6 separate regions of the Homo sapiens genome follow, and regions 1, 3, 4, 5 and 6 are each linked to region 2. The links come from fine-mapping of genetic effects on gene expression. A gene starts in region 2. Each other region holds a variant in brackets. All regions are shown on one strand. Distances are from middle to middle.

Region 1 (5,398 bases), 70 kb before region 2:
CTCGGGAGGTTGAGGCAGGAAGATCACTTGAACCTGGGAGGCGGAGGTTGCAGTGAACAGAGATCACGCCACTGCACTCCAGCCTGGGTGTCAGAGCAAGACTCCATCTCAAAAAAAAAACACACTAAAATAATAAATACATAAAAGAGTGAAGTAGGCTACGGAAAACTAGAACTGACCACGAAAGCTGGGGGCCTCCATCCCTCCTGGCTTTCATCTAGTCTGGGACATAAAAGGCCTTTGGACAGTCCTGGCCTGATACCTCAGGTTCCCTAAAAGCCCTAGACAGCCTGGCTGACCCATGCTGAACAGCAGAGCTTGTTTCAAAGCTGTCTGTAGTAACATCATAGGTTCTGTGACTTCTCTGAGCCCACCTGGACCAGGGCCTCCAAGAATCCAGGGGGCAGGGGTTTCTGGAACTTCTGAGTGTCCCATAAAAGCTAATTAATCATAACTGCTTCAAAAAAAAAATCAAAACTGCTTCTACTCAATTTTGGCCCCTTAACTTCTCTAGCCTACCCACATCTCACTGTTCTATGGGGGTGAGGTCCTAGATGCCGGGTGACCTGGGGGCTGGGCCTACAGTTTGGTGGGACTATCTGCATGTGAGACCTCTGACCCCAGTGGGCATTGGAAATATTCTTGCACCGACATGGACTGGAAACCCTTTCAGAGCTGTGGGACAGAGAGAGGTGCATAGGGAGATAGGTTCTGGGCCATCCACCAAGGCCTCTGGTGTCCATCAGCTCAGCTGTCCATCAGTTCCCAGGGGTAGCCCCTCCTCACAAGGGTCCATGAGAATGATGCCTGGAGAGCTCCATGACACATCTTTGTGAAGGTAGACCCAGAAGATGTTGGAGCCAAGAGTGAGTGGGGACAGAACTTGCCTCTCAGTCAGGACTCTGGCATAGTCAGGGCTCAGCTGGGCTGGAGCCAACATAGCTGGCAAAATTCTCGAGGGACTGTCTTTCTCCCTATCTCTAGGGAGCTCTCCCCACCCCCACAGGCAGTGAGGCTGTTCTGAGGGACAGCAGACAGTACGGTGGCTCCCTCCAACACAGGTCAGGCCTTACTAGAGAAGCAGGAACTGCCTCGCCTCCTCCACTCCCCACTGCAGCCCCAGTCACATTCTCCCCACTTTGGCCAAAGGCTTTTCCAGATGCCTGATAAATCTGGCTGTCCTTGTCTCTCAGAACCTCTAGGGGTCTGTGGCTAGCCAGCAGGAGCAGTAAAAAACTCTGCAGGGGCAAAACACAGCCCAAAGTCCAAAGCTTTCTCCCACTCCTGCTGTCCTGCCCCCTCCAGATACTTGATGAAAGAGACTCCTTTTAAGAACATTCCCATTTAGGTCCAAAGGGACTTAAGCCAGCCACTTCTATCCTGCCTCTAGCTCTCAGGCTGGCACAAGCTTTGTGCTCATGAGGTGTACAATTAACATTTATCTATCATACAACTGCTCAGCCAGGCAGCAGCACTATGTCCATTCTCCAGCCCTTTTCCTAAAAGCCCAGATCCCCTGCCCTCCCCATTCTGCCTGGTTTTCAAGGCACTCTTTCCTCCCTTCCTTCATTGCTGCTGTCTCCAAGAAGGACCCTGGTTCCGCCTCTTCTGTTTGTTCCACTGGTATTGACAAAGGCCAAACACAGGAGGCAAAGCCCAGACAAGTCACTGTGACAAATGTGAGGCTCCCACAAGGGAGTCAGCTTCTCTAAGGACTGGAATAAATGTCCAAATTTCATTCTGGTTTATCTGTAGAGCCAGGAGTAAGAAAAAGGGGTATTCTTTCCTGGCAGCCAGGGGCCTTGTTGAGTCTGACTCAGTCACTAACATCAGTCCTCAGCCCTGCCCCAGACATGTGACACCATTTGACGAGTTTTATGCAGAAACCGGTTCCGGTTACATTTGAACTTTCCCAACTCCAAGGTCAGTAGGACTCAGCCAATTCACGAGGAAGTGCCCAGGACTTTTCCTGAATGTCCTCGATGCCTGTTTTTATGCTGTTTTAGGAATGGAGAACAAGAGGTCTCTGGACAGCCTCTTGGAGGAATGGCCGTTTTCTGCATAATACACAAGTCAAGTTCTCAGGCTATGAAACAACCACTATCTCAACACATTTCCCTTTGGAAAACAGACTCCAGAAGTGAAGGGAAACTGAGCTGCCCACAGGGGGCAGGAAGTGTCTGTCTCCATGGCAA[T/C]GCGCCTGTCCACGTGTGCCTGTGTGCCTTTGATTTCCTGGATGCCTGTCTATTGTCTTTGTGTCTTTATATCTGTGGGTGGCCTAGCTGCTAAAACAAAGCTTCCACACCTCTTGAACTCTTGGAAGACCAGTGAAGGGCTCATCAGTTCCACACCTCCCTTGGCATTTCACTTCCCCAAACTGGACAGGGCACTTGGCTCCCTCAGAGCTGCAAGTCCTTAATTCCCAACATCTCCAGACAGTACCTCATCCCACCCCCTATCTCACCAGCCCCCACTCAGGTCCTGGGGAGGACCCAAGTCCTCGGCCCAGTAGAGGAACCTTATTTACAAAGGTTTATTTCTTCCTGGAGAACCTCCCCACCCTGAGCTAAGCAGCTCCTACTCTGGGCAGCCCCCCAGCACCCTCTCCCTGTCCCCACCAGTGCTCTCCCCCTCCCTTCCTGCCAGGGAGGAATTTCAGCCACTCTGGCTTTCCTTATCGCTAGCTGTGGAATCCCAAGCCAGGGAGTAGCAGGGTAGGGGGCAGGGGAGATAAGGAAAGCCTTCAGACCCCATGAAATCACTCCAAAGTGGAGCCTTTGTCCTCTCTTGAGCCTCGAATTGCCAGAGGCCTGAGGCGCATGGATCAGGAGGGGTCACAAGGGGCTATGAAAGCCATTCCAGCCCGGCCATGTCCCCAGGCCCTGGGCCTTGGGGCTGAGAGGGCTCGAGGGCGCAGGCCCAGCCCAGGCCTCCAGGGGCCAGGCCGCCCTCACAGGGACTGATCCCAGGGCATCGCCGGCCCGACGCCGCCCTGCCCCTTGGTGCCACTTACCTGGTCTCGGGCCGCACGCTGAGCAGGTAGCTCCGGCTGGCTGGGCTGGGGATCCACACGGGGCCGTCGTCCTCACCGTCGCCCCCCGCCCCCGACCGCCCACCCGCGCCCCAGCCCCGGCTGGGGGCCCTCCGCGACCCCATGGCACCGCCCTCCCCGACCGCCGGCCCCGCACTCGCCGCTGCCTCGCCTGTCCTCCAGGCCCCGGCCCCCGGGCCCCTGCCCGCCGCCGCCGCTCCCGCCCGCGGCTGACGCGCGCCCCTATTTATAGCCGGTGGCCGGGCCGTCGTCACCTGCTGCTGTCCCTCCCCTGGCCTGGCCCGACCCGGGCAGCGCGGCTTGGAGACGCCGGGGGGCGCCGGGGCCCATGTGCCCGCCCCAGGGCCGGCTCCGAGTCCGCTCCCTTGGCGGCCCTGGTGTCTGCAGTAGCGCCGCGTCTGGAGAGGCCCGGGAGGCCTCGGGAGGAAGGCGCAGCGGGTGTCCTGGTCATGGAGGACAGGCCCCTTCGTGGAGCTCCCGGGACCCGGCTCCCGGCCGGCCTGCTCATGTCCCGTGTGGCATATGAGGGGTCCACGAGGCCTGGCCGGGGCCAGGGGAGCCAGGTCAACCGCTGGCCAGCTTGGGCTAGACCGCGGGAGACCAGGGAGCCAAAGAACCAGCCCTCTTCCTGGCACCAGCCGTGACTGACCCTCGCCTTGCCTCGCCAGTGGCTGTTGGCCCAGCACATAGACAAGCCAAGCCACCTCCATTAGTGACCTGAGTCCCTGGGAGGCCGGAACCCCGTGGGATCTCTCTCCTGTCTCCCCCAACACCCCCAGTAACTAGCATAGATTAGGGGCTCAATTAACACTTCTAGATCACTCCTTCGGCCTCCATTTCTCAGCACCAGAGGGGGAAATGGGCTGAGTCCTGATACCCAGAAAAATAATCAAATCATGCAACAATTTCCAAGAACTAGTGCCAAGCACTGCCGAAACCTGGTCTAAATATTGGAAGTCCCCACAGACTTTTTTTTTTTTTGAGACAGAGTCTGGCTCTGTCGCCCAGGCTGGAGTGCAGTGGCGCTATCTCGGCTCACCGCAACCTCCGCCTCCCGGGTTCATGCCATTCTCCTGCCTCAGCCTCCCGAGTAGCTGGGACTACAGGCGCCCCACACCACGCCCGGCTAATTTTTTTCTTTGTATTTTTTAGTAGAGACGGGGTTTCACCGTGTTAGCCAGGATGGTCTCGATCTCCTGACCTCGTGATTCGCCCGCCTGGGCCTCCCAAAGTGCTGGGATTACAGGCGTGAGCCACCGCGCCCGGCCGGAAGTGCCCACAGACTTTTTTATCCATCCTTCTTTCTCCTATTTTCCTGAGAGCATCCAGAAAGTACCTGAAGCTAAATGGCTGTAATTGTTAGAAAGTGGGAGCAAAGGAGTCCAACCCTTCTGTTTTCGAAGCTGCACCCATCCCTACTCCTTTTGGAAATGGCTTTCCCCTACTCCGTGTGGTTCCAATGGCAACTACCTTGTTCCCACATGATCCCACTCCTGGCCTCAGCTGACTGCCATCAAACTCAAGCCAGGCTATTCACGGTACCCAATCTCCCTGACTATAGACCCTGGCTGTGCCAATAAAGTTCTTCTCTAAAACATTTTTAACTGGAATTGGGAAAGAAAACCAGACCCTCTGTGGTGGAAAACTGAGCTGTGAGGCCACAGCTGTCAGCAGCCATGTTTCCTGCCCTGTAGAGTAAGCCAGTTTACAGTGAGGAATAAGGAAGCTAGCACAGAGAGAAGCAGAGGCAAAGGACACAGGGTCCTGGTGGCTTTCAGGTGCCCTCGTTCAGGTGTTCCTGGGTTCCAGCTTTGTCCCTGGCCTTCCTGCAGGTTGGCAGTTCAAACTTTCCTTGGAATCTGTGTACCAAAAAAGTTCTCCCTTTGCTATTTCCAATTTAGGCTTCTGTTGGTAGAAGTATCCTGACCAATACTAATGTGTTCTCTCCTAGTGATCCCAAATTCATCTCTTGATCACATGTCCCCATTCATTCTTGCTCTTGGCTCTCTGGAGGTGCACAGAATCTTCAGTCATCTACAGGGTAGTCTTTCAAATATTTGAAAACCCACTTGGAGTTCTGGTTCATTTGTTTAAATCGTGTATGCTGGTTCAAGCAGCAGAGAAAAAAAGGGGGTGGGTGGGAAAGCATGTGAACACTCATGGGTCAGGTTAGGGCACAGGTGCTAGAGGCCGGGGTCACAGGGTCTCTGCCTGCAAGAAGCTCACAGTCTAATAGGTGGGACAGGCAACATACGATGCAGGGGAAAACATACAATTCTAAAACTATGTATAGGGAAGCACCAAAGTACAGAGAAAACAGTGGTTAGTTCTGCCTGTATTAGGACA
Region 2 (5,398 bases):
CCCCACAGGCCTCTTTCACTTCCTCCTTGCTACAGTCAGCTCCACACATGGTTAACTCTTAACCCTCCTTCAGATCTTGGCCTAAACATCACTTCCCCAGGGAAGGCTTCCCTGAGCCCCCAACTCAAATCGGTCTCTTACCCCTCTCTTCAGCTTTCTCTTCTTATATTCACTATAGTTTGAATTATTAGTTTACCACTTCCAAGTTTTACTCGAAAGACACCTTCTTAGGAAGCCTTCCCAGGCCACCGTATAATATAAATTCAACTACCACCCCTGATACCTCAGATTCTCCTTCCCTGCTTCCTTCTTCTCCTTAGCATTTCACACTTTTTAACAGACTATATTTTTGTTATATATTTTATTTATTGTCTTCTCCCCCACTCCCAGGAAAGCACCACAAGGGCAATCATTTTTGCTTTCTTTGTTCACTGCATCTAGAACAATGCCTAACACGTATTTGTTGACAAATATTTGTTGTTGAATAAATTTCCACGACTATTTATTTATTTTGAGATGGAGTCTCACTCTGTAGCCCAAGCTAGAGTGCAACGGCACGATCTCAGGTCACTGCAACCTCCGCCTCCCGGGTTCAAGCAATTATCGTGCCTCAGCCTCCCAAGTAGCTGGGATTACAGGCATGCACCACCACACCCGGCTAATTTTGTATTTTTTTAGTGGAGACGGGGTTTCACCATGTTGGTCAGGCTGGTCTCGAACTCCTGATCTCAGGCGATCCACCCGCCTCGGCCTCCCAAAGTGCTGGGATTACAGGCGCGAGCCACCGCGCCCGGCCACGACTATTAATTATTAGACTTTCCCAATGGCTAAGAACTAAAACATGGTATCTTTCTGGCTTACCAATGTACTCCCAACACCTAGCTCAGTGCCTGGCACAGAGTAAGTGCTCAGTAAAAATTTATTTAATGAATCAAAGCCACAACTAGTTGAAAAATTGGAAAATGATCAAAATGGACGCACTAGCACCACACTTCTGCCCCTTTCACTGTGTAACGTAACAGTGAGGTTGAGGAAACAGACTACTAAAATACCACCAAGCATCCACCAGGCCAGGAATCTGTCTGTCCACATCCTCCGCACTCTGCCACACTGTGCACCACACTGCACCCGCGACAGAAGCACCCTACAGGCCCTCCATGAGCACAGGCCTGAACTCAAGTGGGCAAACCATAAGCCAAATACCGTCTTACTCCCCAAGTCCCATTCTTCTACTGCCAGTCCTATTCTAGACTAGTCCTGGATGCCAAACATGCTTCCCTGGGTGGGCCTGTGGACTTATTCCAATCCAGGACCTTTAATGCCACCTTTGGCCTACTCAAAAAATGGTTTAAAATCCCTAAACAGCTTCAATAATCCTGCAGTACTCAGGAGCAGGCATACCTAAGGTCATACGGACCCCTCCCCCTCACAAACGCTGATCCAAGGCCAGGAGGCCATCTGTCCAGCAGACGCTCTCCTGTCCTCCCTCAGGTCACACTGAGCCTCCCGCCAACCCCCTCGTTGGCAGGAAGAGCCCTTGCAGAGAGACAATTTTCACCCTGATCAACAGGCCTGGTCACCCCTGAGGACCCCAACTCTGGAGCTCTAGGAATACCTGTCTGCTCCGGGAGAAACCTTCCTCAGGGTCAGAACTTGGGCTCAGGGGAGGGGAGTACTGAGGAGCGCCAAAGAGGGTCGTTCCCCGAAGTGTCTGCCCTGTGACGGCGACAGCTCTTCGGGCGGCGGGGACGGTCGGGCTGACAGGCCGTCCCAGAGGGAGAAAGTGGCACCGTTATCCGTGCCCGGGCTGGGGGCCGCCGGCTATCGCCGAGGGCGGCCGCACGTCCCGCCCAGCGCGGAGGACAGCAGCGTGCCCGGCCTGCCAAGGAGCGGCGGTCGCAGCGGCGGTCGCAGCGGCGGAAGGGGCCGGCGCCCGACGGCCGGGGGCGGGGTGGGGTGGCGGCCCGGGCCCGCCAGGCGGCGGTCGGGGGAAGTGGCTGCCGCCTCTGGCGGCGGCCAGGGTCCGCCAGGCTGCAGGGCCGGGCCCCGGCTCGGGCTCGGACTCGGTCCCGGCTGCGATCCTCCCGGGCCCAGGCTGGGGCTGCCCCGGCCCGCAGGCCCCGCTCGGCCCGGCCCGCGGGGGGCGCTTACCTGGCGGCGGCGGCGGCGACTGCAGGCCAGAGTCTCGGCCGCGCGCGTCCCCAGCGCCGGCTGCGGGAGCCACAACATGGCGACGGCGATGGCGGGCGGGGCTGCGGCTCCGGGGGCGGAGCGGGGGCGGGAGCCGGCCTGGCGGCGGGACCTGGCTGGGGCTGCCGCGGCGGGGGATTGGGGGGGGGGGGGGGCAGGCGGAAGGCGACTCGGACCTGGGCACCGGCCCAGGACGGTGCGGTGGAGGGGCTGCCCCGGCCTGGGCCCGGCCTCCCGCCTCCCGCCTCCCGCCCGAGGCGGGCTGCGCGGCGCAGGCCCGGCGACGGCGACGACGGCGGCGGCGGGTAGGGCGGGGCGGGACGCGACGGGACGGGGCGGGGCGGGGACGGCGCCGCTCAGGGCTGGACCCCCGACCCCGGCCGGCCCCCGCCCGGCTCCAGTCCCCGCCACCCGTGCTAGGCACCCTGTGCGGTCGGGCAGGCAGCCGCTGCCAGCGACCTGGGCCTCTTGTCCTCTGACGCGCCTCGGGGCAGGGGCAGGGGCCGAGGCCGCCCACTAGAGGAACAGGATCTGCCTACGCAGCTGTCTCGCCCGGCAAAGAGCGCCCAGGACCCGGGACTGCGTCCTCTTCACTGAGACCTGGCGCATAGGGGGCCTAGTCGAGGCTGTTAAGTGAAAGCAAGCAGGGGTGGCGTGGGCCTGGCGCTCAGGTGCGCCCTAAATGTTTGGTCATAGCTGGCTACAAGGACATTCGCGCAGGCTTGGAGGTGCGGGGCAGCCTGACGTGTTGCCTCTGGGGTAACCGAGGGACGCGCGGCAAACAGAGATGGAGGACTGGCAACGGGTGCCTCGAAGAGGTAGACTGGGAGATCTCTCAGGGTTACTGGGGAAACGATGACTGTGCAGGGTGAGAACTCAGTGAGTCTGGCAGAAGGCTGGGAGGGTGACCGGCAGGACCTTCCAAGAACCCGGCGTACCTGGAAACTGGGTCCGCAGCATTAGGGCGGCAGCAAGGTCAGGGTGTGGGAACACGGAGATGAGGCCCTGGTGACTAGGAGTGAGCACACACTGCTAACCATGGAGAAATTCCTTCTCCAGGAAGGAGATGCAAATGTGCAAGATGGCTGGAACTAACATGCAGCCGGAGCCTGCTGTGCACCAGGCACAGAACTGAGTTGAAGAGCTTGTCTAAAGAGTATGTTAGCCAATGAAGCAATGGAGTTAATAAAGGGTGATGATTTCAAATGTTTGGCAGTGAGAGAGAGAAAAGTAGGCCTGGAGCTCAAGAAGTACCAAGAGTAAAGGAGAAAGTTGGGTCCTACTGTGGAAGCTGAGGCAAAAGCATCCCTTAAGCCGAGAAGTTTGAGTTCAGCCTGGGCAACATAGCGAGACCCTCCCTCTCTGCAAAAGAGTAAAGGGAAAAGTTGATTGTTTTTTGTTTTTTTTTTTTGTCTTTGGAGACGGAGTTTCGGTCTCGCAGCCCAGGCTGTAGTGCAATTGCGTGGTCTCGGCTCACTGCAACCTCTACCTCCAGAGTTCCAGTGATAATCCAGCCTCAGCCTTCAAAGTAGCTGGAATTACAGGCGCACGCCACCATGCCTGGCTTTTTTTTTTTTTTTTTTTTTTTTTTTTTTTGAGAGAGAGTTTCGCTCTTGTTGCCCAGGCTGCAGTGCAATGGCACAATCTCGGCTCACTGCAACCTCTGCCTCCTGGGTTCAACCGATTCTCCTGCCTCAGCCTCCCGAGTAGCTGGGATTACAGGCATGCGCCACCATGCCTGACTAATTTTGTATTTTTAGTGGAAATGGGGTTTCAACATGTTGGTCAGGCTGGTCTCAAACTCCTGAACTCAGGTCATCCACCCGCCTCGGCCTCCGAAAGTGCTGGGATTACATGCATGAGCCACCGCACCCGGCCCTAATTTTTGTATTTTTAGTAGAGATGGGGGTTCGCCATGTTGGCCAGGCTGGTCTCGAACTCCTGACCTAAGGTGATCCACCTGCCTTAGCCTCCCAAAGTGTTGGAATTACAGGCATGAGCCACCATGCCTGGCCGGTGATTTTTTTTTTTTTTTTCCTAACTTGAGTGGGGAGACCTTAACTAAAGGAGCTGAGAGGGGAGAATGGCAGATAGATGTAGGATAATTGATGGTGCAAGAAACCAGAAAAGGAAAAGTAGATGGGAAGGGGGAAAGGGGTGAGCAAAAAGTCAGAGAAGTCCGCCTCTTCCTACAAGATTTAAAGAGTGCATAAAGATTGAAATATTTTGAGGTAGGGAGGCATGCATGCTTCCATGGATCAGCTGCCTGGATTACCCTCTACAATCATCCTTAGGGCAGCTGGGGTCACTGTCCTTTAAAATTTAAGTACAATTGACTCCAAACCTGTGTACCACTTAAGAAACCCAGCATACCTGCCAATATCTCCAGAGTTTCATTGGGAACTTACATTTCTCCTAATTATCTCAGGCCCTAATTTCTTGTTTGCAAAAAATATTGTGCTCTTTGGAAGATTTGTCACCATATCCCAGATATTAGTCCATTTATATTACCTCAAAATATTGCACCCTACCTATAAGCAGGAAAAATGCCCAATATTATATTATTATATTATAGTTATATGATTGTTAAATAAACTAGAGTTTGTGGCCATTAAAAATCATGGTAAATAAAAAGATTTAATGATGTGGGAAATCTTTATAATTAAAAGCACATTATAAGGTGATATAGCAGATGGTAATATATAAATATACATAAATAAGTATAATGCGTAGATTTTAAAATGAGACTTTTCTTCTGTGACATCTATATTTTCTTATTTTTATAGTGCATGTATATTTCTCCTGGAAGCAGGGAAATGGTATCTTTAAGTAGCTTTTAAAAGTATTTTTAAGAAAGGTGTTTTTTAAAAGATATTTATGGGGTTCGAAAGAAAAAAATATTAGGGCTGGGCATGATGGCTCATGCCTGTAATTCCAGCTACTTGGGAGGCCGAGGCTGGTGGATCACCTGAGGTCAGGAGTATGGGACCAGCCTGGCCAACATGGTGAAACCCCATCTCTACTAAAAGTACAGGCGTGGTGGCACGCCTGTAGTCCCAGCTACTTGGGTGGCTGAAGCATGAGAATCACTTGAACCCAGGAGGTGGAGGTTGCAGTGAGCTGAGATTGCACCACTGCACTCCAGTCTGGGCAACAGAGTGAGAATCTGTCTCAAAAGAAAAAGAAAAATATATTAGGACTCTGGAAA
Region 3 (5,398 bases), 82 kb before region 2:
TTGAAAGATGAGAAGGAATTTGCCAGGCAGAAAAAGAGTAGGCTTCTAGGTAAAAAGGCAGAATGAACATGCCATCTATCTTCATACCCTCCCTCAAACTCACTAAACTGCCCTGAAAAGACTTTTTAATCAACATATGTAAAAGCACAAAGATGAAGTGAACAGGCAAGGAGAGTAATAGGAGCAACAAAATTTTGAAAGTTAGAAAGCAGATGGACAAGTGGAAACTGACTTAGCAGACTCAAGACAGCTCAACCCTAAGCTAGCAGTGGAGAAAACTGAGAACTATCCTTTCGACACCAGAAAATCCCCAAAGGGCCTAAGAATTGGCAATTTGGTACCTCTGGAACTGGGAGAAAGAGGAAGGAGGAAAGGTTCAAAGATGCTTAAAAAATAAATCTTTGGAACCCTTCAACCATTCTATCTCACTGGATGACTGCTCCTTCCCCACCACAGCCAAAGATGAAGTTTATTATTTGGAAATGTAAAAATCTGCCCTGAGAGTAAGCCAGCATAACTGAGGGCATGACTATTCTATGAAAAATAGAAAAATGTAATAACCATATATCATAAAATAAATGTCTTATGCTGAGAGCCCACCCAACCCTCTGATCTGCATAACTCCCAGAAAACCTTTCGCTAGGAAACCTAGCAAGTTCAAGAGGAAGGAACTAAAGAAACTTACTTGGCAGTTCCCAACAGTGGCTACCTAGGTCACCCTACAGTAAACAGCCAAGTTTTCAGGCCCCTCCTCCTTGCTCAGAACTTCTGATCAGCTTTTAAGTCTCCTACTCTTGCTCATTATCTGACAGCCAAAGATTTCTAGATATGGGAGGAAAGCCTACAATCGAAGATTAATGACAAAATTAAATTAAACAGAGAAAAAGCAAGACAGAAGAAAAACTATGCAAGGAAAAGGAAGCTTTTAGAAAACTATCATTAATAAGCATCTCAGAGAGCTAAGAAAAGATACTACATTCATGAAAAGTGCAGGATGCTACAGAAAATGACAAAAATTAAAACCCTTGGAAATTAAAATTCAGTAGAAGAGTTGAAAGATAAAACTAAGGAAATCTCCCAGAAAGTAGAGCAAAAGACAAATAGATGAAAGGGGAATAAAGGATAAGAAAATAAAAGTCCACGACCAGGGGAACAGCTATCCAAACAGGAGTTTGTAAAGTAAGACGACAGAAAACAGGAGGATAAAATCAAATTTCCCAGAACTAAAGGCTCTCCGTTTCCAACTGAAAGCATCTAAGCATGTTCCAGGGTGAAGAGACCCATATCGAAATACATCATTATGAAATACCAGAACACTCTTACAAGCTTCCAGAGAGAAAAACTGGTCACATGCAAGGAATTAGGATCAAACTGTCTTCTCACTCTGAAAAGCAACACTGGAAGCAAAAAGATAATGGAACAATGTCTAAAATTCTGAAGGGAAATTATTTTCAGCTTATAATTCTATACCCAGCCAAATTCGCAAGAAAAAGTAAAGTAGAAAAAAAGAGGCCGGGCACAGTGACTCATGCCTACTATAATCCCAGCACTTTGGGAGGCCAAGGTGGGAGGATTGCTTGAGCCCAGGAGTTTGAGACCAGCCTGGCAACATAGTAGGACTTAGTCTCTATCACACACACACACATACACACACACACAAAATAAGTTGGGTGTGGTGGCACATGCCTGTGGTCCCAGCTACTCAGGAGGCTGAGGCAGGAGGATCACCTGAGCCGGGGCGGTTGAGGCTGCAGTGATCTGTGATCATGCCACTGCACTCCAGCCGGGGTGACAGAGGAAATCTTGCCTCAAAAAACAAACCAACCAAACCAACAAACAAACAAAAACATTTTCAGACACAAGGAATCCAACATCTACTTCCCATGTACTCTTTCTAGAAAGCTGCCAAAATAAGAATGTAAATCAAGAAAGAAAAAAATGTAGAATACAAAAAGCAGAAAGTTACCACAGAAGAGAGGTAAACCAAATCTAGAGGATGGTAACTGTGTACCAGATGCAGAGAAACGAAGGCACATTAGACCAGAGGGACTCAAGGGAGAGCAAGGTCCAGACCTTGCCATCACTATGCCCTCTGCACCATCTTCAGGACCTGATGAAACCACTGGGGCAGTATTCAATAACGCAAAAAAATAAACCAAGAAAGGAAGACATGAGATCCAGGAAGCTGAATTAAATCCACAGAAAAGCAAAGGGAAGAGCCAGGATAACAGCTGTGTATCAGGCCCTAAAAGCCTAGCAGTTCAGATAAAAGAAGAATGGAGAGCTCCAAGAGGAATATCTCCAAGGAAAGTAACTGCCAGATTACTGATGTCATTGACCTTGCAGAATATCGTATTAAGAGGCTATTAGGAGGTATAAGAAAAATTAGCAACAGATACAAAAAAAAGAAACAAATGAAAAACTATGGAAAGTACTAACCTCAGGAAAAACAAAAGAAAAAATACAAGCATAGTATGCTACAATGTTCAGTTATGAATAATATTGTATAGGCATAATAAGGTAAACAGTAAATGTTGATTAAAGCAAAAATTATGATATAACTGAAGCAGGATAGTTTTAGAAAACTATCATTAATAAGAGTCAAGGAAGTAACCATGTCCTCAGGACACAGCAACCATCCGGACTATACAGTCAACACAATAAGCCCCAGCATGAGCATTCTAAAGTTCTTTCAAGCAAAGCTATCTCCAGTAGGGAATTCCCATGTAGAGAGCAGGAGCATTTTGATTTTACCTGTCCTCAAACTCACCCTTTGCTCATTGTAATAGTAAAAAGCACACCCCTGGGTGGAGATTTAAGATGCATGTCTCATTAGCATGGGTGTGGTGGCACGCGCCTGTAGTCCCAGATACTCACGATGTATAAACAGCATGTACAGCTACTGCGCATGTGCACCCAGAGGACCACCCAGAACATGCTTAGGAGCAACACCGCTTCCTACCTCCTCATGAATAATCATGTAAGACTTACAGAAACGGAGTCGCCCTAGGTACCAGTCTTTGCTGTCTCATCCTCACGAGAAGCCCATGCTGAATCTTCTCTCTCTCAGGGTGTCCTGTCTATTCTGCACCTAACTTTTACAGTATTCTTTTTC[C/T]TTTGCAATAAATTGTTCTATCTCCTTTGCTGTGTGTCTTTTGTTTCAAGTTTTTAAAACTAAGAAGATAAGAACCAAAGTTCCACAACTGCTGTCAACATAATTATATGAAGAAGATAAGTTCAGGGAAACAGAGAAAATGATGGTATAAAAGAGCTAATTCCTTATCTACCATAACAGGAAGACAATAGAGAACATCTAAAACTGAAGAATTTCACGTAGTACTCAGCATGATGGAAATGTATACATGCCAGAAGAAACAGCTAAAAGCTGAAAACAGTTGCTTCTGGGAAGACAAATTGAGAGGGGTGAACTGCTGTATTTTGAAATATGCCTTTTAGTATAATTTGAAGTCTTAATTATGTGCATATATTTATTTGACAAAGTAAAATTTAATTTTCTTTAAAAAGAAGGATTAAGGACTTTCTAAATAGAGAAAATGAGATGTGCAAAAGCATGAAGCTGTGAAAGAACCGGGTTTTTCTAGGAAACTGTAAGTGCCACAGTAACACAGGAGATGCAGGCGGGAAGCAGCATCAGATGCCGGAGAGCAAAAGCAGTGTCTCCCTCACTAGTGCTGCGGACTTTGGCAACGCATCAGCCTCTCTCAGCTTCCTCCTTGGTAAAATTTGACTAAAAATAGCACTTACTTCATAGGGATTTGTAAGAATGCAATGACAATGGAAACAGACAACTTGCGAAATTCACCATACGCCATACAAAGGTATGGGATGCACACCTATGTCGCTCGGAGCAGAGAGTGTTCTCAGTCTGCAGCTCAGAGGGTTGAGTAAGGGTGAGAACTGCCCAAGTGAGAAGCTGTTTACTGGCTGGGGTAATCAAGTCCGCCAGAATTCACAGCTGGAAACCACGAATGACCTTGACTTACAGAAACAACAGGCTCTCCAGAGGGAGCCTGGGCCTGGGATCTAATAGCTGCACAGCTGGGAGGGGTGGGTACCCATTTGTGGGTCCTGCGGGCCCTGAGGCTGGTCAGGTTGGAGTCTCTACTGGGTGATCTGGGGGAGAGGCAATGTCTGGAACCACCCTCCCAGCACTCCCACCCATTATCTTCCCCTTCCAAGGAGTATCACTCTGCTTCCTATTCTGCCAAACGGTTGCTTCAAATTCCATCACGAAGCTCAGTGAAATGCAAGTAACAGTCAGTTTCTAACTCTTATGTGGTACTTACTGTACATAAGGTACTACTCCAAACACTTTGCATGTATTAACTCATTCAGTCTCAAATAACCCTATGAAGTGCATCCTATCATTATCCCCACTTTACAGATGAGGCAGCTGAGAGGTTATATAACGTGCTCAGTAACATCATTGGAAAGGGGATGAGCCAGGACTCCAAGCCAGGCAGTCTGCCTCCAGGGTCTGTAGTCAGAATCACCACATGCAATTCTCCTCTCAGGCTTGAGACTCCCAACCTTCAAATTACTCAACTATAACATGGGGATACTCAGGGAGATGGCCTCAAAGATCTCTTTCCATTGGAGTACTTCTTTTCTTGCAACAAATAAGGCCATTAGTCATGGATGTATCCCTGAGGGTCAGGAACCTTCACTGAGGACAGGTTCTGAAGAAGAGTAGGGTATATATGTGGCTCCAGAATGGGGGAAGCAAGGGGCACCAGCCCACACAGGGATGTTAAACTAGAGAGAAAGCTCAGAAAGTAAATGTCACCTCACGTAGTTTTGTGCACACAGCCCGCCACCCCACCATTCCTGTCCTCACAGCCTCCTTGGACCCTGCTCTGTGCAGAGGCCCTGGCATGGAGCATACAGACAGCATCCTTACCTGTGACGATGCAGGTGAACCTGACGTCGCTGTCCTCGGACACAGACCGGGACTTGAGCGTGGTCTCAAATAGCGGCTGGGTCTCCTCTGTGAGCTGAGCAATGATGGAGCAGAAGGTGCTCCTAAGAGAGGCAAAGAGCTATTCAGAGCTGGCCTTCCCCACAACAAACAGCACAGCCTGGCCTGTCCAAGGCAGCTTCCGTCTTACCATGCCTGCCCATCTTCCTGTGGCCAGAGCTGCAGCACCCCGGCAAGTCTTTCTTCAAGGCAGCTTGTGCCTCTTGGCCAGGCTGGGGCCAGGTATCAAGGGGTTGAATGGAATCCTGGCCCAGACCCATTACAATAGGCAAGCTACTGACCATGGGCCAGGCTCCTGAGCATGCCAGTCTACAAGCCCAGGTGTCCCATCCCATCATTGTTTGAGGGGCCTTACTTCACCCTGCACCTTTCATCTCCAGGGACACTGGTGCATGAGGG
Region 4 (5,398 bases), 130 kb after region 2:
GGTGTGAGTGGTTTGGTGTCTACTAAAATTTGAACCATCACTAAAGCTTTTTCCACATTCATCACATTTGTAGTATTTCTCTCCTGTGTGGGTCCTCTCGTGTGTGATGAGGTGGGATTTCCGGCTGAAGGTCTTCCCACACTGGGGACATTCGTAGGGCTTCTCCCCTAGGTAGGTGCCCTGCAGGCCTATGAGCTGGCCAACTTCCCTGTCCTGAGAAACCACCTCCCCGTGGTCCTCACCTGGGCTGTGTCCCTGGAGCCTCTGGATGCCAGCATCTCTCTCAAAGTCACTTTCCCCATCGGAGTGCTGAGCACTTTCACCTTCAGGCATTTCCGAGAATATCTTACGTGATTCATTCTCAAACATGTCTTGATTACAGTTCTCCCCATTTTCACTCTGTATCTCAAAATCTGAAACAATGAAGAAAAACATACAATGTCTACTCAACTCCCTGTCATGATGACAAAAGAAAACGAAGGGGGAAATTTATAAAAATTAAACTTCCAGTGAACACAAAGAGGCTAGAAAATCCTCAAAGCCTTTAATAATCAGGTTTAATATACCCAAAGGAATATAAATCATTCTATTATAAAGATACATGCACACACATGTTCAATGCTGCACTATTCACAATAGCAAAGACATAGAATCAACCCAAATGCCCATCAATGATAGATTGGATGAAGAAAATGTAGTACATATACACCATGGTATACTATGCAGCCAAAAAAAAGAATGAGATCATATCTTTTGCAGGGACATGAATGGAATTGGAAGCCATTATCCTCAGCAAACTAACATAGGAACAGAAAACCAAACACTGCATCTTTTCTCTTATAAGCAGGAGCTGAATGAAGAGAACACATGAGCACATGGAGGGAAATAACACACCCTGGGGCCTGTGGGGGAGGGGGAGGGAGAGCATCAGGAAGAATAGCTAATGGATGCTGGGCTTAATACCTAGGTGGTGGGATGACCTGTGCAGTAAACCACCATGGCACGCATTTACCTTTGTAGCAAACCTGCACATCCTGCACATGTACCCCTGAACCTAAAAGCTGATGGAAAAAAAAAAAAAAAAAAACCAACCCAGGCTTATTTCATTCTGACTGGTTGTCAGGCCTCATAATCTTTGTGGCAATCACCCAGAATTTCAAAGCCTTAAAGATTTGGGTTCCATGTCCCCACTACCTGTGTCTTCATCTGAAAATGAGGTCAGGTGGGAATTTTAAAGGACATAAACAGGGTACCTACCCAATTACCCCCACACTCACCATAATGCCTGGTGCTTGATTCAATGTAATGAGTGCATGAATGAGTTTTTTTATTGGTACCATAGACATTTCCCTAAAGCTCAGTCTCCTTTCAAAAGGAGCTTATATAATAATTTCTTGTATTGACATGTATCTGGTGTTTATGACCGCATTACTTTGTATTTAGACACAGGAAAGATGACAGAGCCCGTGCAATAAGGACCCTAGGTGTGTATACCAATGACTAGAAGCAAGTTAACTGGATTGTTAAAAGAGCCCTCAAATTTGTCTGCAGTGGGAGCTTATGAATAGATTTTTTTTTTTTTTTTGAGACGGAGTCTCGCTGTGTGGCCCAGGCTGGAGTGCAATGGCGCGATCTCGGCTCACTGCAAGCTCCGCCTCCCCAGTTCACGCCATTCTCTTGCCTCAGCCTCCCGAGTAGCTGGGACTACAGGCGCCCACCACCACACCCGGCTAATTTTTTGTATTTTTAGAGAGACGGGGTTTCACCATGTTAGCCAGGATGGTCTCGATCTCCTGACCTTGTGATCCGCCCGCCTCGGCCTCCCAAAGTGCTGGGATTACAGGCGTGAGCCACCGCGCCCAGCCATGAATAGATCTTTAATTGGTAATATGTCTTCCAGGAACTTGTTAAACCTTCCAGTGCCCAAATATTTGAGTAAAAGAAATCATTAGGGAGGACTGCTAGAAGAACATAGCCCCTTCCTTAGATGAGGGACTGTAAAATCTACCCGAGGATGAGGCCAAAGCAGCAGAGAGCTGAGCCTGGATCACACTGTTCTGACCCCCGGCAGAACTGTGTTTACTGAATAGTG[T/G]GTTGGCTTCATAGCCCTGGCTGACACTCTAAGAAGTGTCATTAGAAATTAATGACTGACACCGGGCATGGTGGCTCACGCCTGTAATCCTAGCACTTTGGGAGGCCAAGGTGGGTAGATTATCTGAGATCAGGAGTTTGAGACCAGCCTGACCAACATGGTGAAACCCCGTCTCTAATAAAAATACAAAAAAATTAGCTGGGCATGGTGGTAGGCACCTGTAATCCCAGCTACTTGGGAGGCTGAGGCAGGAGAATCACTAGAACCCAGGAGGTGGACGCTTTGGTGAGCCAAGATCACGCCACTGCACTCCGGCCTGGGCAACAGAGCCAAGACTCTGTCTCGAAAAAAAAAAAAAAAATTAATGGCTGTTGGGAACATTAATGCTGCCAGGAAGTTGTTGATGACATTGTTTATACCACACAATGTCCTCTTGATGAGCCTGAGGAGGAAATTTCCCTCTTGACCTCAATCCTAAAAAAAGCTGCACTTTTTTCTATTTTTTAAGACAGAGTCTCACTTGGTCACCCAGCCTGGACTGCAGTGGCGAGATCTAGGCTCACTGCAACCTCAGCCTCCCGAGTTCAAGAGATTCTCCTGCCTCAGCCTCCAGAGTAGCTGGGACTACAGGCGCACACCACCACGCCCAGCTAATTTTTGTATTTTTAGTAGAGATGGGGTTTCACTATGTTGGCCAGGCTGGTCTCAAACTCCTGACCTCAGGTGATCCGCCCGCCTGGGCCTCTTATAGTGCTGGGATTACAGGTGTGAGCTATCGCGCTCGAACTCCTAGTGACATTTCTATTATTAAAGCTAAAAAACTTTATTTAAGGTTAGATGCTCAATTAATTTTCTGTAAGTTAATATAAACTCTTACATATGAACATGATAAAATTGGACATGCCCCTCTCAGGCAGGACCTGGGCTCCACTCTTGCCTTCAGTCAATTTAAGATCACATTTATTTTTATTTTTTATTTTTTTGAGACAAGGTCTTAGTCTGTCACCGAGGCGGTAGTACAGTAGCGAGATCGCAGCTCACTGTAGCCTCAACTTCCTGGGCTCAGGTGACGCTCCCACCTTAGCCTTGCAGGTAGCTGGGATTACACAGGTGTATGCCACCACACCCAGCTAATTTTTTTGTATTTTTGTAGAGATGGGGTTTTGCTATGTTGCCCAGGCTAGTCTCAAAGTCCTGGGCTTGAGTGATCCTCCTGCCTTGGCCTCCCAAAGTGCTGGGATGATAGGCATAAGCCACCATGCCTGGCCATAAGATCACCTTTAAAGTTGAAAACAGGCATATAATTAAACTCCATGCTTACACTGACACATGCTGCTGGTAATCTGTGGGTTCACAGAATTGCCCTCCAGCCCCACCCCTCATATCACTAGGGGACAGATACAGGCACAAGGGGCACAAGGTATACTCTGACTCGGCAGAACCAGGAATTCTGTGTTTCCTCAACTTCCTGCAAGACAGTCTTTTTTTTTTTGGAGTCTCACTCTGTCACCCAGGCTGGAGTGCAGTGGCGCGATCCTGGCTCAGGGCAAGCTCCGCCTCCCAGGTTCAAGCAATTCTCCTGCCTCAGCCTCCTGAGTAGCTGGTACTACAGGCGCACGCCAACACGCCTGGCTAATTTTTGTATTTTTAGTAGAGATAGGGTTTCACCACGTTGGCCAGGCTGGTCTCAAACTCCTGACCTCAAGTGAGCCGCCCGCCTTGGCCTCCCAAAGTGCTGGGATTAGAGGCGTGAGCCACTGCGCCTGGCCATGGAAGACAGTTTTTTTTTTTTTCTTTTTTGAGACAGAGTTTCGCTCTTGTTGCCCAGGCTGGAGTGCAGTGGCGCGATCCTGGCTCCCCGCAACCTCTGTTCCCCGGGTTCAAGCAATTCTCCTGCTTCAGCCTCCCAATTAACTGGGATTACAGGCATGTGCCACCATGGCTGGCTAATTTTGTATTTTTAGTAGAGACAGGGTTTCTCCATGTTGGTCAGGCAGGTCTCGAACTTCCAACCTCAGGTGATTTGCCCACTTCCGCCTCCTAGAGTGCTGGGATTATAGGCGTGAGCTGCCATGTCTGGCCGGAAGACAGTTTTTTGGCAAGTTTTGAGCACAGAGCCCTGCCAGCATCTCTCTTCTAGAAGAACCTGCAGGCCAAGACCCTGATTAATTTTTAGCAAACTAACATGACCAAAAACATTTTTTTGGGTGATTTTAGTAATTGAATAGGTAACATTAGCTAATAAGGCTGTTTTTGCTGTTTTAAAATCAGAACTGGTTAGCTCTCCAATGAGCTCGGAAGCAACAAGGAAAACAAGTAAAATCCAATTTTATTTTCAGTGAGATCAGAAGATAAAATATGTAGGCACCAAAATACATGTCAGGGCTTCCCAAAACAGCAGACTGGGTAAAAGCAATGAGGAAGGAAATGCAATGAATAAGCATGGAGAGCCCTGGGGTGGGAGGGAACAGAACTCAGAAAGCTCAGGCAGAAAATCACTTCCTGTGTTTGGGAACTGGGGTAAGCAGGGCTGGCTTCTTTGGTTCAGAGAGGCAAAGGAGGTGAGGCTGCAACTGGAATCACACAGGGCAGCCATGTACGCAGGAAGCTGTTTCTGGAAAGCAGAGAAGGAAAGAGCCTTTGACCCACGCACATTAATCCAAGGTATTTATTTATTTATTTTTTTGAGATGAAGTCTCACTCTGTCACCCAGGCTGGAGTGCAGTGGCACTATCTTGGCTCACTGCAACCTCTGCGTCCCAGGTTCAAGCGATTCTCCTGCCTCAGCCTCCTGACAAGCTGGAATTACAGGTGCACACCACCACCCCCGGCTCATTGTTTTTGTATTTTTAATAGAGATGGGGTGTCGCCATGTTGGCCAGGCTGGTCTCGAACTCCTGACCTCAAATGATCCAACTGCCTCGGCCTCCCAAAGTGTTGGGATTATAGGCTGGAGCCCGGCCCAAGGAATTACTATTACTGAGAAAAGTGATCATTTCCATCCATAAAAATAATTAAATGAGGCAACTGCCTTTATAAAGGAATACCACAGAGAAGAGCTTGAAGAAGGGATGGTGAGACAACAGGAAGAGATTAAATGTACACTAGAAGAACTCAGGAAAGGAGGGAAAATCAGCCAGAGAAATGAAGACAACAGGAAAAGGAGCGCAATGGGAATAGGCATCTTGGAAAGCACCATTCCAAGAATGGGAAAAAGAGGACCAAAATAAGAAAGCAATGACAGGAAATGGAAACAAAGGAATAGGTTAAAAGGATTAAAAAGAATGACAGAGGGCCAGGCGCGTT
Region 5 (5,398 bases), 220 kb before region 2:
ACAACATAGAAGTTTGTTTTTCTCTCAGATCACTGACACCTAAAGGGATTAATCAGAGATCTAGGCTCAGGACCCCTCTCTATAGAAACAATTTGAGTAACCTAAAATCAATGTGCCTGCACCATTCCAGCAGCCTAATATTTCCCCCCCCTCCCCGCCTCCCTCCAGCTTAACAGCCTAATCTTGTGAGATCCTCAGTATGTGGCTTCCACTTGGGGCTCCACAATGGCCTCTATCACACTTACATTCTAGCCAGAAGGAAAGAGGAAGGGATGGAGAATGTGACCAACTATCCTGGCTTGCCCAGGACCGAGAGATTTCCTAGGATACAGGACTCTTAGTGCTAAAACCAGTAAAGTCTCAGGCAAACCAGGACAAGTTGGTCATCCTAGAAGAAGTGCATGGCCCTCTCTTAGGTATACTTTGGAAGTTATATAGCATGTTGCTTTCATCTCATTGGCCAAAACTTAGTTATGTGCCCCCATCCACCGCAAAGGAGGCCAGGACATGTTGATTTTATTCTGGGTGGCCATATATCCAACTATACACTTATAAGAAAAGAAGGGAAAATGGCTATTGGAATCAACAAGCAGTCTCCAGCCTAAATCCAGAGAGGAGACTTCCATGTATTGCCACCAAAAAACTGCCTTGCAGGTCTGTATTAGTCCATTCTCATACTGCTATGAAGAAATACTTGAGACTGGGTAATTTATAAAGGGAAGAGGTTTAATTGACTCACAGTTCTGCAGGGCTGGGGAGGCCTCAGGAAACTTACAATCATGGCAGAAGGGGAAGCAAACACATTTTTCTGTACATGGTGGGAGGAAGGAGAAGTGCCAAGCAAAGGGGGAAAGGCCCTTTATAAAACCATCAGATTTTGTGAGAACTCACTCAACTCACTATCATGAGAACAGCATGGGGGTAACCACCCCCAATACTCAATTACCTTCCACCAGGTCCCTCCCATGACACGTGGGGTTATGGGAACTATAATTCAAGATGAGATTTGGGTGTGGGGACACAGCCAAACCATATCAAGGTCCAAGCACTGGCATTCCATACTGAGGATCTTCAAAGGCAAGGAAGTCTCAAGCCTTACAGGTAAGACAAAGAGGGAAGCATCAATCATTCCCTCCTGCTCCTATGTTGGCAGTCTGCTTCCAGCTGCAGACGCACTTGCTTTTCCAGCCTCCCTTGCAGCTACAGCATGGGCCTCTGGCTTAATCCCAGGATAGAAAGAAATATCTGCTGGGGCTTCTGTGGAAAGATTCTTCCCATCTAATGAATGCATGGGAGGAAAAGCCTTTTCTACTAGTCATGGCCCTGTCTGGGTGTAATGTCCAGAACTTCAGCAGCCATCTTGTGACCACAAGGGGTCAATCCAAGGATAAAATCAAAATAACAGAGCAGAGAGGTGGCAAGAGCCAGGGTCCCTGGTACCATCATTGATGCCTGGATTAACCCTGGAGCCACTTACCCCTGGAGTTGCTACTATGTGAGATATTAAAAATCTCACATCATGTAAACCATTTTCTATTGAATGCACTGTTACTTGCAATTGATATTGGGTAATGTCAATCATTCTAACCAATAAAGAGCATGTCTCCTACTGAGTGAGAGGAAGGAATAGGTGATCTCTGTGCAGCTGCTCCTGCTGGGAAGATCTGTTGGGGCAATGAGTGCCCTGAAAGGAGTGGGCAATCTTCCTTCAATGTCTTCCTTGCCTCCTTCCCTGTTTCTCTTCTTTTCTTCTTCCTTCCCTCCTTCCTTCCATCCTTCCTTCCCATGCCCTTATCGTTTCCTTCCCCTTCCCTTCCTCCCTCACTAGACATCAAGCCCTAAAGATACTGTTTTAAACAAGATGGACACATTTCCTTCCCCCAGAAGCATACTGACATGTATGAGATAGATGATTAAACAAGACTTCACAAGGTATGACAGGGGCCAAGACAGGAGAATCAGGGTGCTGTGGGAGGTCCAGAACAGACTCCTAACTCAACTTATAAGTTCAGATGGCTTCCTAGAGAAGACAGCCACATTGGGTCCTGAGGGATGAGTAGGAATTAGGTACATGAAAGAAAGGAGTGGTCAAGCGTCTGGAGCAGCCTGTGGAAGAGCCGAGAGGAAGGAGAGTGCAACTCCTTCAAGGGACTGAAAGCAGCTCAGTGAGGCTGGAGCTAGGACAGAGGAGGCGCTGTGCTAGGAAATGGCTAGAGGTGAAATAGGGGGTCATCAGGGGCTGGATCTAAGCATCCTCATGAGCCATGATGAGGAGCTGGCACTTTGCCTGAAAGCACCAACTGGACCATCTGCCTCTTAACCACCCACTTGCTCTGCATGGCTCAGCTGCTGTCCAGGTCTCATCCTGGGTGAACCCCATCATGGACTGGCCTGGTGTACAATGGCTGATAGACAGGCTCGGGGGGGCAGCTGGACCCCAGGTAGGTACCCTCCCTGGCCATGCCAGAGCTGAAGAGAAGCCAGCCCTGTCCCATACTGTGTTGTGGTGTGATGGGCCACTTTGTGAAAGGGTGTCCCACCCTCCGCCACGTGTCCACCACTCGCTATGACTGTAGTCCCTTCCCTGCTTCTGAAACTGGACTCCTGCTTCCCCACCCCTCTATCTAGTGAGGGAATATTCTAACAGCCCATTCTAGCAGGACCTCAGGATGGAAGATTGGAAGCTCCCTGTCCAGGGAAACACAAGTGGATGCCCACTCCTGGGGAGAGGGTGTATAAAGATCCTCAGCTATGGGTCACATGGGGCATCCAGTGGTGGTAGGCACTGCTTGTTGGTGAGCATGAGAGTAAGGGGTGTGGCTAGGGATA[G/A]CCCGAGGGATTGCAAGGCTGGAGTGGTTTGGCCTGTTTCTTGATTTTTTCTAATTCAATTTAAATCTGACTCTAAGCCACTATCCCACTGAGCTGGCAAGAAATTCAATCTCAGGCATATCGTTGAGTCTCCCTCCCCCATTCTCAAGATTTTGCCAAGGTCCCAGGGTCTTAGGCAGTGCTGAGGCGTCAGGCTGGCTCCACTGGTCACACTAGCAAATGCAGAACATCCATCATCCCAGCCTTGTGGCACCTCAGGCTTGGTGGCTCTGCTGATTTGGAGTCACCCTTGGAATGTGGGAATTGTGAGGGAGGGGCGAAAGCTCTGTGCTCAGATCCACTCTCCCTGAGTGTACCAGGCAGCCATGTCCTCTAAGGCCTTGTCACCTTTGGACACTGCCTAGAGTCAAGGTTTGAGACCTTTCCTCCCTACCCCCAGCCCTAGTCACACTCTGCCCCTTTCCCTTCTGGGGTAAAAATCTTTTCCTCTCCCTTCTTCCTGCTCTCAAAGGCCCACCCTTGGCCTGGTGCAGTGACTCACATCTGTAATCCCAGCACTAGGAGTTTGAGACCAGCCTGGGCAACATGGTGAAACCCCATCTCTACTAAAAATACAAAACATTGGCCAGGCATGGTGGCATGCACCTATAGTTCCAGCTACTCCAGAGGCTGAGGTGGAAGGATCACCCGAGCCCAGGAGATGGAGGTTGCAGTGAGCCCTGATCATGTCACCATACTCCAGCCTGGGCGACGGAGCAAGACTCTATCTCAAAAAACAAAAAATCATAGGCCCACCCTTTCTTTCTTCTCTTTCCAGGACACCTTACAGAGTCTCTATAAAGAGTCAACGAAGGCTGGGTGCAGTGGCTCACACCTATAATCCTAATACTTTGAGAGGCTGAGAAGGGAAGATCACCTGAGGCCAGGAGTTCGAGACAAGCCTGGGCAACATAGCGAGATCTCTGTCTCTACAAAAAAGAAAAATTAGCCGGGCATGGTGGTGAGCACTTGTAGTCTCAGCTACTCTGGAGGCTTAGGCGGGAGGATCACCTGAGCTCAGGAGTTGGAGGCTTCAGTGAGCTATGATCACACCATTGCACTCCAGCCTGGGTGGCAGAGTGAGACCCTGTCTCTAAAAATAATTAAGAAATTTAAAAAAAAATTTAGGTCAAGATTATTGCAAAAGACAGAAAGACCCACCAACTTCCGATAGCTTTTATGCTCTGACCACCAGAAATACCCAAGGCAAGGAAACACCAAGGGACTCACTCTCTGCTTGAAAGAGCCAGGGGAGGAGCAAATGTAAACCAAATGAGCACAGGGTAACATTTCAATGAATCATCTTGCCCCAGTGGTTTGATGAAGGGCAGTATCTCTGTCGTAGGTGCTGCCGTTGTGAATCCCAAACTCTTCCTGGCTGTCTCACCTAGTTAGTGACTTTACCTGGCATGAGCTTCTCTCACCCAACATCTTGGAGTACTTGGACCACCTTAAACTGCTGCTGTATTAATTAACTGTCATTAAATGATGCTGCCGTAACAGTCTCGGAATCTTAGTGTCTTACGACCATCAAGATTTATCTCTCAGCCAGGCAAAGTGGCTCATACCTGTAATCCCAGCACTTTGGGAAGCCAAGGCAGTAGGATCATTTAAGGCCAGGAGTTCAAGACCAGCCTGGTCAACATAGCAAGACCTCGTCTCTACAAAAAATAAAATAAAATAAAATATTAGCCAGGTGTGACGGCACATACATGTAGTCCCAGCTGCTTGGGAGACTGAGGTAGGAAGATCCCTTGAGCCCAGGAGGTTGAGGCTACAGTGAGCCATGATTATATCACTGTACCCCAGCTTGGGCAACAGAGTGATACCCTGTCTCTAAAAAAAAAAAAAAAAATTCTCTCTCACTCACAGAATGAGTCACCTGAGGTTGCTGCGGCTCTATTCCATGCATTTCTTTATCCTGAAATCCAGGCTGAAAAGAGAAGCCCCTTTCTGAGTCACGCTGTTCTCAAAAGAGGCAGGCTGCTTGGATGGTTCAGAGCACGGCCTTGCATTCAGATAAGGCTAGGCAAAAATGCCTGCATTATCAGAGTTAATGCTTACAACACCCCTACGAGTTCGGAGGTGATATTCTCATTTTACAGATGAGAAACCTGAAATTATCTTGCCCGAGGACACACAGGGATGTGAAGAAGTGGAGCCGGAACTCAACCATGTATGTGTCTGGCTCTAAAGCCCAGGCTTTCCCTCACCCTGCTATTCTGTCCCTGCAAAGCCAATTCAGGATCAGCCAGTTAAACATGCTGAATTGAGAGCACCTGTAGTTAGCACTGTTGTCGCTCAAAACTCCACTAAAAAAAGGGGAAAGAAAGAAAAGATTTATAAAGCAATAAGGACTAAGAGAGTGAGAGCAGCAACAGGAGAGATAAGGAATGTTAACACAGTTTTGGAAGCAGAGCTGATAAAGCTGAACTGTGAAGCTCAGGAACTGGAGGCACCTATTACTGCAAAAGCGAGGGCGAAGGTGGGGCTGAAAACAGGAAGCGGAGTTGAAAGCCTAGAGCCCCAG
Region 6 (5,000 bases), 54 kb after region 2:
TTACTTCAGTGTGAATTTTTGTTTTGCTGCCAAAATCTTAATGTGTTTGATATTGGGATATTGCCATAAACCCTGCTAAGAGTATATGTAACATAGGGTACATGCAAGTATTACCTTTTCAAAATCACACCCATTCTGAATCCTGGAACACATCTGACCCCCAAGGGTTTTGAGTAAGGGATTATGGAGCTATATACATTGTAGAATCCTACAACCCCTTCCTCAGAGGTTCTGAATTAGGGCCCAGAATCTATTGTCCTAACCAGTACTGTAGGTGATATTTTTAGTGCAGAAAGTTGGAAATTTGAGTCTTAACTGAATTCCTCACTGTTTATCTTCTGGTTGACATAATTGTGTCTTAGAAGCTAGTTTTCCTACTTCTATCATGTCCCACTCCACGTCTTCAATTCAGCCTTCAGAATAAGAAGACCCATTTTGTCTTTTAAAAAGCCACCATCTTGAAAACATAGAATTTAGGAGGCCAGAGTTCTAATAGTGCTACTCTGCCAGCCAGTAGACAAGCAGCCATGAGCATGTCGCTTAGCTTCTCTGTGCCTCAGTTTCCTTACCTGTAAATGTGAGTGTCAAAGTAGGTTTCAGATTATCCATGTGCTCACATCACTCTATTACTGAAAGAACAGCAAATATTTCTAATTGTCTCGGCGAAAATGTTCATATTTCCTTTTGTGGAAATTGATTAATTACATTGATTGAGTACACCGTGCTTCATTGGAATGCTAGAAGAATAGTGTTCTGGCCATTAGCGTGGACTTAAAAAAATAAACCAAAACAGTTTAGTTTTGAACAGGTGATACTTGCATATAGTAAAAACTGTAAAAACATGAAGTATGTATATCAGAAAATATTTTTCTTCCACCTTGACTCCTGGTTCCTTTTCTCCAGTTTCTTGTCTGTCTTTTCAGAGATTAACTGTGCATTTATAAGAATATGAAACTTGATCGCTTCTCGGCCTTTTGGCTAAGATCAAGTGTGAAGAATATGAAACTTGAAATGTTTTTAAAAAGTATGCAGGAAAAACAGGTTAATTGTAGGGAGAAAATAGAAAATGGTACAAGAGAGCTGGATTCCTCATCACAATTGTATTTATTTTTTGAGACACAGTCTTGCTCTGGCACCTGGGCTAGAATGCAGTGGGGCAATCATAGCTCACTGCAGCCTTTACGTCCTGGGTTCAAGTGATTCTCCTGCCTCAGCCTCCAAGGAGCTGGGACTACAGGCATGCACCACCACACCCAGCTAATTTTTCTTTTTTTTTTTTTGAGACGGAGTTTCGCCCTTGTTGCCCAGGCTGGAGTGCAATGGTGCGATCTCGGCCCACTGCAACCTCCGCCTCCCAGGTTCAAGCGATTCTCCCACCTCAGCCTCCCGAGTATCTGAGATTACAGGCATGTGCCACCAAGCCCAGCTAATTTTGTATTTTTAGTAGACATGGGGGTTTCTCCATGTTGGGCAGGCTAGTCTCGAACTCCCAACCTCAGGTGATCTGCTCGCCTTGGCCTCCCAAAGTGCTGGGATTACATGCGTGAGCCACCGAGCCCAGCCTCTGGATATTTTTTTTTAATCATCCGCATCTCTATTTAGTGTGCTAAATTTTCCTCTACCTTCTTTTTTTTTTTTTTTTTTTTTTTTTTTTTAGATGGAGTCTTGCTGTGTCGCCCAGGCTGGAATGCAATGGTGCGATCTCAGCTCACTGCAACCTCTACCTCCCGGGTTCAAGCAATTCTCCTGCCTCAGCCTCCCGAGTAGCTGGAATTACAGGCACACGCCACTGCGCCTGGCTAATTTTTGTATTTTTAGTAGAGATGGGGTTTCACCATGTTGGCCAGGCTGGTCTTAAACTCCTGACCTCGTGATCCGCCTGCCTCGGCCTCTCAAAGTGCTGGGATTACAGGCGTGAGCCACTGCACTCGGCCTTTTTTTGTATTTTTTTTTGTAGAGATAAAGGTCTTGCTTTCTGGTCTCGAACTCCTAGGCTCAAGTGATCCTCCCACCTCAGCCTCCCAAAGTGTTGGGATTACAGGCATGAGTCTCTGTGCCTAGCCCCTCATTGTACATTTTGAACATCATGCATTAACACCCTAGTATGAAAGTAAACAAACAGTTTTTAGAGTGGTTGGGGTAAACACCAGAATGAATAGCTAGAAGAGATGAAAATGGTTGATGTAGGTGGCCTGCCATGGCTAGGATATTGCTTTTTTTTACATATTCTTGTATGTATGTGTGTATACTGTTTTGATTAAAAATAACAATTGATTTAAAAAGGGAAGTAGAAAATGTAGATGATCAAAATGAAATAAATAAGAATTGCCTAGTATTACACCCCCAAATATAACAACTAACATTTATTTTATTTTCTTCCTTTTTTTTTTTGAGAGAGTCTTGCTCAGTTGCCCAGGCTGGAGTGCAGTGGTGCGATCTCAGCTTACTGCAACCCCCGCCTCCTGGGTTCAAGTGATTCTTGTGCTTCAGCCTTTTGAGTAGCTGGGATTACAGGCATGTCCCACCACACCCAGCTAATTTTTGTGTTTTTAGTAGAGATGGGGTTTCGCC[A/G]TGTTGGCCAGGCTGGTCTCCTACTTCTGGCCTCAAGTGATCCACCCACCTCAGCCTCCCAAATTGCTGGGATTACAGATGTGAGCCACTGCACCTGGCTTCTTCCATATTTTCTATGCATTTTTTGGAATTTTTCAGAAAAAATTGAAAAAACAGTACAGGGAACACCTGTAATCTGTCACACAGATCCAACAATTATTAGCATTTTGGCCATATTTGTTCTATGTATACTTATGTGTGTGTGCATATATAGAATTTTCTTTTGCTGAATCACTTGAAAATGAGTTGCAGATATGAGAATTCACCCCTAACTACAACTACTAGCTAACTACTACTAATATGCATCTCCTGTGATAAGGATAGTATTCCACATAACCACAACACCATTATCACATAATTTAAGAAAATTAGAGGCCGGGTACAGTGGCTCACATCTGTCATCCCAGCACTTTGGGACGTCAAGGCGGGTGGATTGCTTGAGGCCAGGAGTTTGAGACCAGTCTGGCCAGCATGGTGAAACCCCGTCTCTACTAAAAATACAAAAATTGGCCGGGCGTGATGATGCATGCCCATTGTAATCCCAGCTACTTGGGAGGCTATGGCACGAGAATCACTTGAACTTGGGAGGTAGAGGTTGCAGTGAGCTGAGATCATGTCACTGCACTCCAGCCTGTGTGATAGAGCAAGACCCTGTCTCAAAAAAAAAAAAGAAGAGAAAAAAAGAAAACATGAATTTCCTAATGTCATTTAATATTCAAATCATATTTTGAGTTTCCCCAGTTCACCCCAAAATATTCAGATTTTTTCTTATGCTTTTTTTTTTTTGAACCAAGATCCAGCCAAAGTTTGTGCATTATTAGAACTGAATGAGAAGAAAAAAACAACAAAGAAACCAAAGTTTGTGCGTTACATTTGGTTGTTATATCTCTTTAGTACTTTTTAATCTAGAACAGTCTTCCACCTTTTTTTCCATGACATTGAATGACATTGGATTTTTGAAGAGACTAGGACAGTTGTGTAGAATGTCCACAAGCAAATATTAACAAAAGTGACCAGGCATGGTGGCTCATACCTGTAATCCCAGCCCTTTGGGAGGCTGAAGTAGGCGGATTGCTTGAGCCCAGGAGTTCAAGATCAGCCTGGGCAATATGGCGAAACCTCATCCCTACAAAACATACAAAAATTACCACGTCTGGCTACTCGGGAGGCTGAAGTGGGAGGATTGCTTGAGCCCAGGAGTTGGAGGCTGCAGTGAGCTGTGATTGTGCCACTGCACTCCAGCCTGGGCAACAGAGTAAGACCTTTTGAAACTTCTGTTTTTTCACTTTATATTACTAATATTTTGTTAGATCCACAGTTTCAGTCCTGTGTTTAAGTTTCTTCATAGTTGGACCTTAATATATGCTTTTTCAGATTTCTCCCAGTACTTTCCAGTACCAGCTTTTTCCTTGAACTATTTGCCATGGTGTCTAGTCATCCTCTCTATACTTTTTCCAGCCTTGGCCCAAAACAGTTAGCTCACATTATTTATCTTATCTGATTTTGTAATATTTTTTGCCTTTTTCCACGTGTTCTGAATTTTCTTTATTTGAAATTGAAATGCCGTCTGGTGTTTTATCTGTTTATTCAAGTCACAGAATTTTAGAGTTTGTTGGAGTACTGGAAATTTAGTAAGAAGGCTGACCTTCAAGTCTTGACTATGTGACTGATAAGCTTAGGACTTGGTGAAGTCTCCTCTTTTCGAGACAGTTTCCTTAACTGTAAAATGAGAAGGTAGAGTTAAATGTCATTAACTATTCCCATGATTATCAAGGGATAAGTATAGTAGAAAAGTAATAGAGGGCCGGGTGTGGTGACTCACGCCTGTAATCCCAGCCCTTTAGGAGGTGGAGGTGGGCAGATCATTTGAGGTCAAGAGTTCGAGACCAGCCTGATCAACATGGTGAAACCCAGTTTCTACTAAAAATTCAAAAAAATTAGCTGGGCGTGATGACGCATGCCTGTAGTCCCAGCGACTCGGGAGGCTGAGGCAGGAGAATTTCTTGAACCCAGGAGACAGAGGTTGCAGTGAGCTGAGATGGCACCACTGTACTCCAGCCTGGGTGACTGAGCAAGAGCGAGGCTCCATCTCAAAAAAAAAAAAAAAAAGAAAAAGAAAAAGTAATAGAGGAGTTCAGAAGCAGAGACAGATTACTCTTGGCTGGTAAGTAGCATGAGTGATAAATTTAAGCTGAATGATTATGGAGCCCAAATGAAATAACTTGTGTGAAATGTTCTTAAAATAATATGGTGTTATATAAATGTAACTGATGTTTTACCAAACAAAATGGAGCAGGGTGCTTTGGGTGAAAGAAGGGGGGCCTGTTTTGATCTGCTGATGGCATAATTATTATAATGTATTAAAGAATGTCTCAGAACTGTAGTTGTCC

Evidence for each region.
Region 1: its variant is fine-mapped to the expression of ZNF592 in whole blood (TOPMed, PIP 0.96).
Region 3: its variant is fine-mapped to the expression of ZNF592 in whole blood (TOPMed, PIP above 0.99).
Region 4: its variant is fine-mapped to the expression of ZNF592 in whole blood (TOPMed, PIP above 0.99).
Region 5: its variant is fine-mapped to the expression of ZNF592 in left ventricle (GTEx, PIP 0.98).
Region 6: its variant is fine-mapped to the expression of ZNF592 in whole blood (TOPMed, PIP 0.98).

The regions. Positions count from the first base shown.
Region 1 is chr15:84,815,211-84,820,608 of GRCh38, reverse strand. ALPK3 (alpha kinase 3) reads right to left here and starts at 3,253. Exons shown (of 14, transcript NM_020778.5): 1 at 3,014-3,253. The coding sequence starts at 3,156. RefSeq lists enhancers at 436-965, 966-1,497, 3,625-4,155. The variant T/C (reference allele first, on the strand shown) is at 2,196.
Region 2 is chr15:84,745,418-84,750,815 of GRCh38, reverse strand. ZNF592 (zinc finger protein 592) reads right to left here and starts at 2,224. Exons shown (of 11, transcript NM_014630.3): 1 at 2,152-2,224. RefSeq lists enhancers at 1,253-1,332, 1,861-2,700, 2,773-3,072 and silencers at 1,733-2,222, 2,283-2,702.
Region 3 is chr15:84,827,129-84,832,526 of GRCh38, reverse strand. ALPK3 (alpha kinase 3) reads right to left here. Exons shown (of 14, transcript NM_020778.5): 3 at 4,922-5,043. Among named protein-coding and RNA genes, the nearest start is that of ALPK3, 12 kb to the right of the region's middle. RefSeq lists an enhancer at 5,066-5,398. The variant C/T (reference allele first, on the strand shown) is at 3,116.
Region 4 is chr15:84,615,617-84,621,014 of GRCh38, reverse strand. It overlaps ZSCAN2 (zinc finger and SCAN domain containing 2), which reads right to left. Exons shown (of 3, transcript NM_181877.4): 3 at 1-413. It overlaps LOC105370947 (a long non-coding RNA gene), which reads left to right and starts at 4,603. Exons shown (of 4, transcript NR_186225.1): 1 at 4,603-4,756. The variant T/G (reference allele first, on the strand shown) is at 2,093.
Region 5 is chr15:84,960,657-84,966,054 of GRCh38, reverse strand. It overlaps a transcript of SLC28A1 not described here. Among named protein-coding and RNA genes, the nearest start is that of PDE8A, 18 kb to the left of the region's middle. The variant G/A (reference allele first, on the strand shown) is at 2,830.
Region 6 is chr15:84,691,744-84,696,743 of GRCh38, reverse strand. All of the region lies in intron 1 of SEC11A (SEC11 homolog A, signal peptidase complex subunit), which reads left to right. Among named protein-coding and RNA genes, the nearest start is that of SEC11A, 22 kb to the left of the region's middle. The variant A/G (reference allele first, on the strand shown) is at 2,572.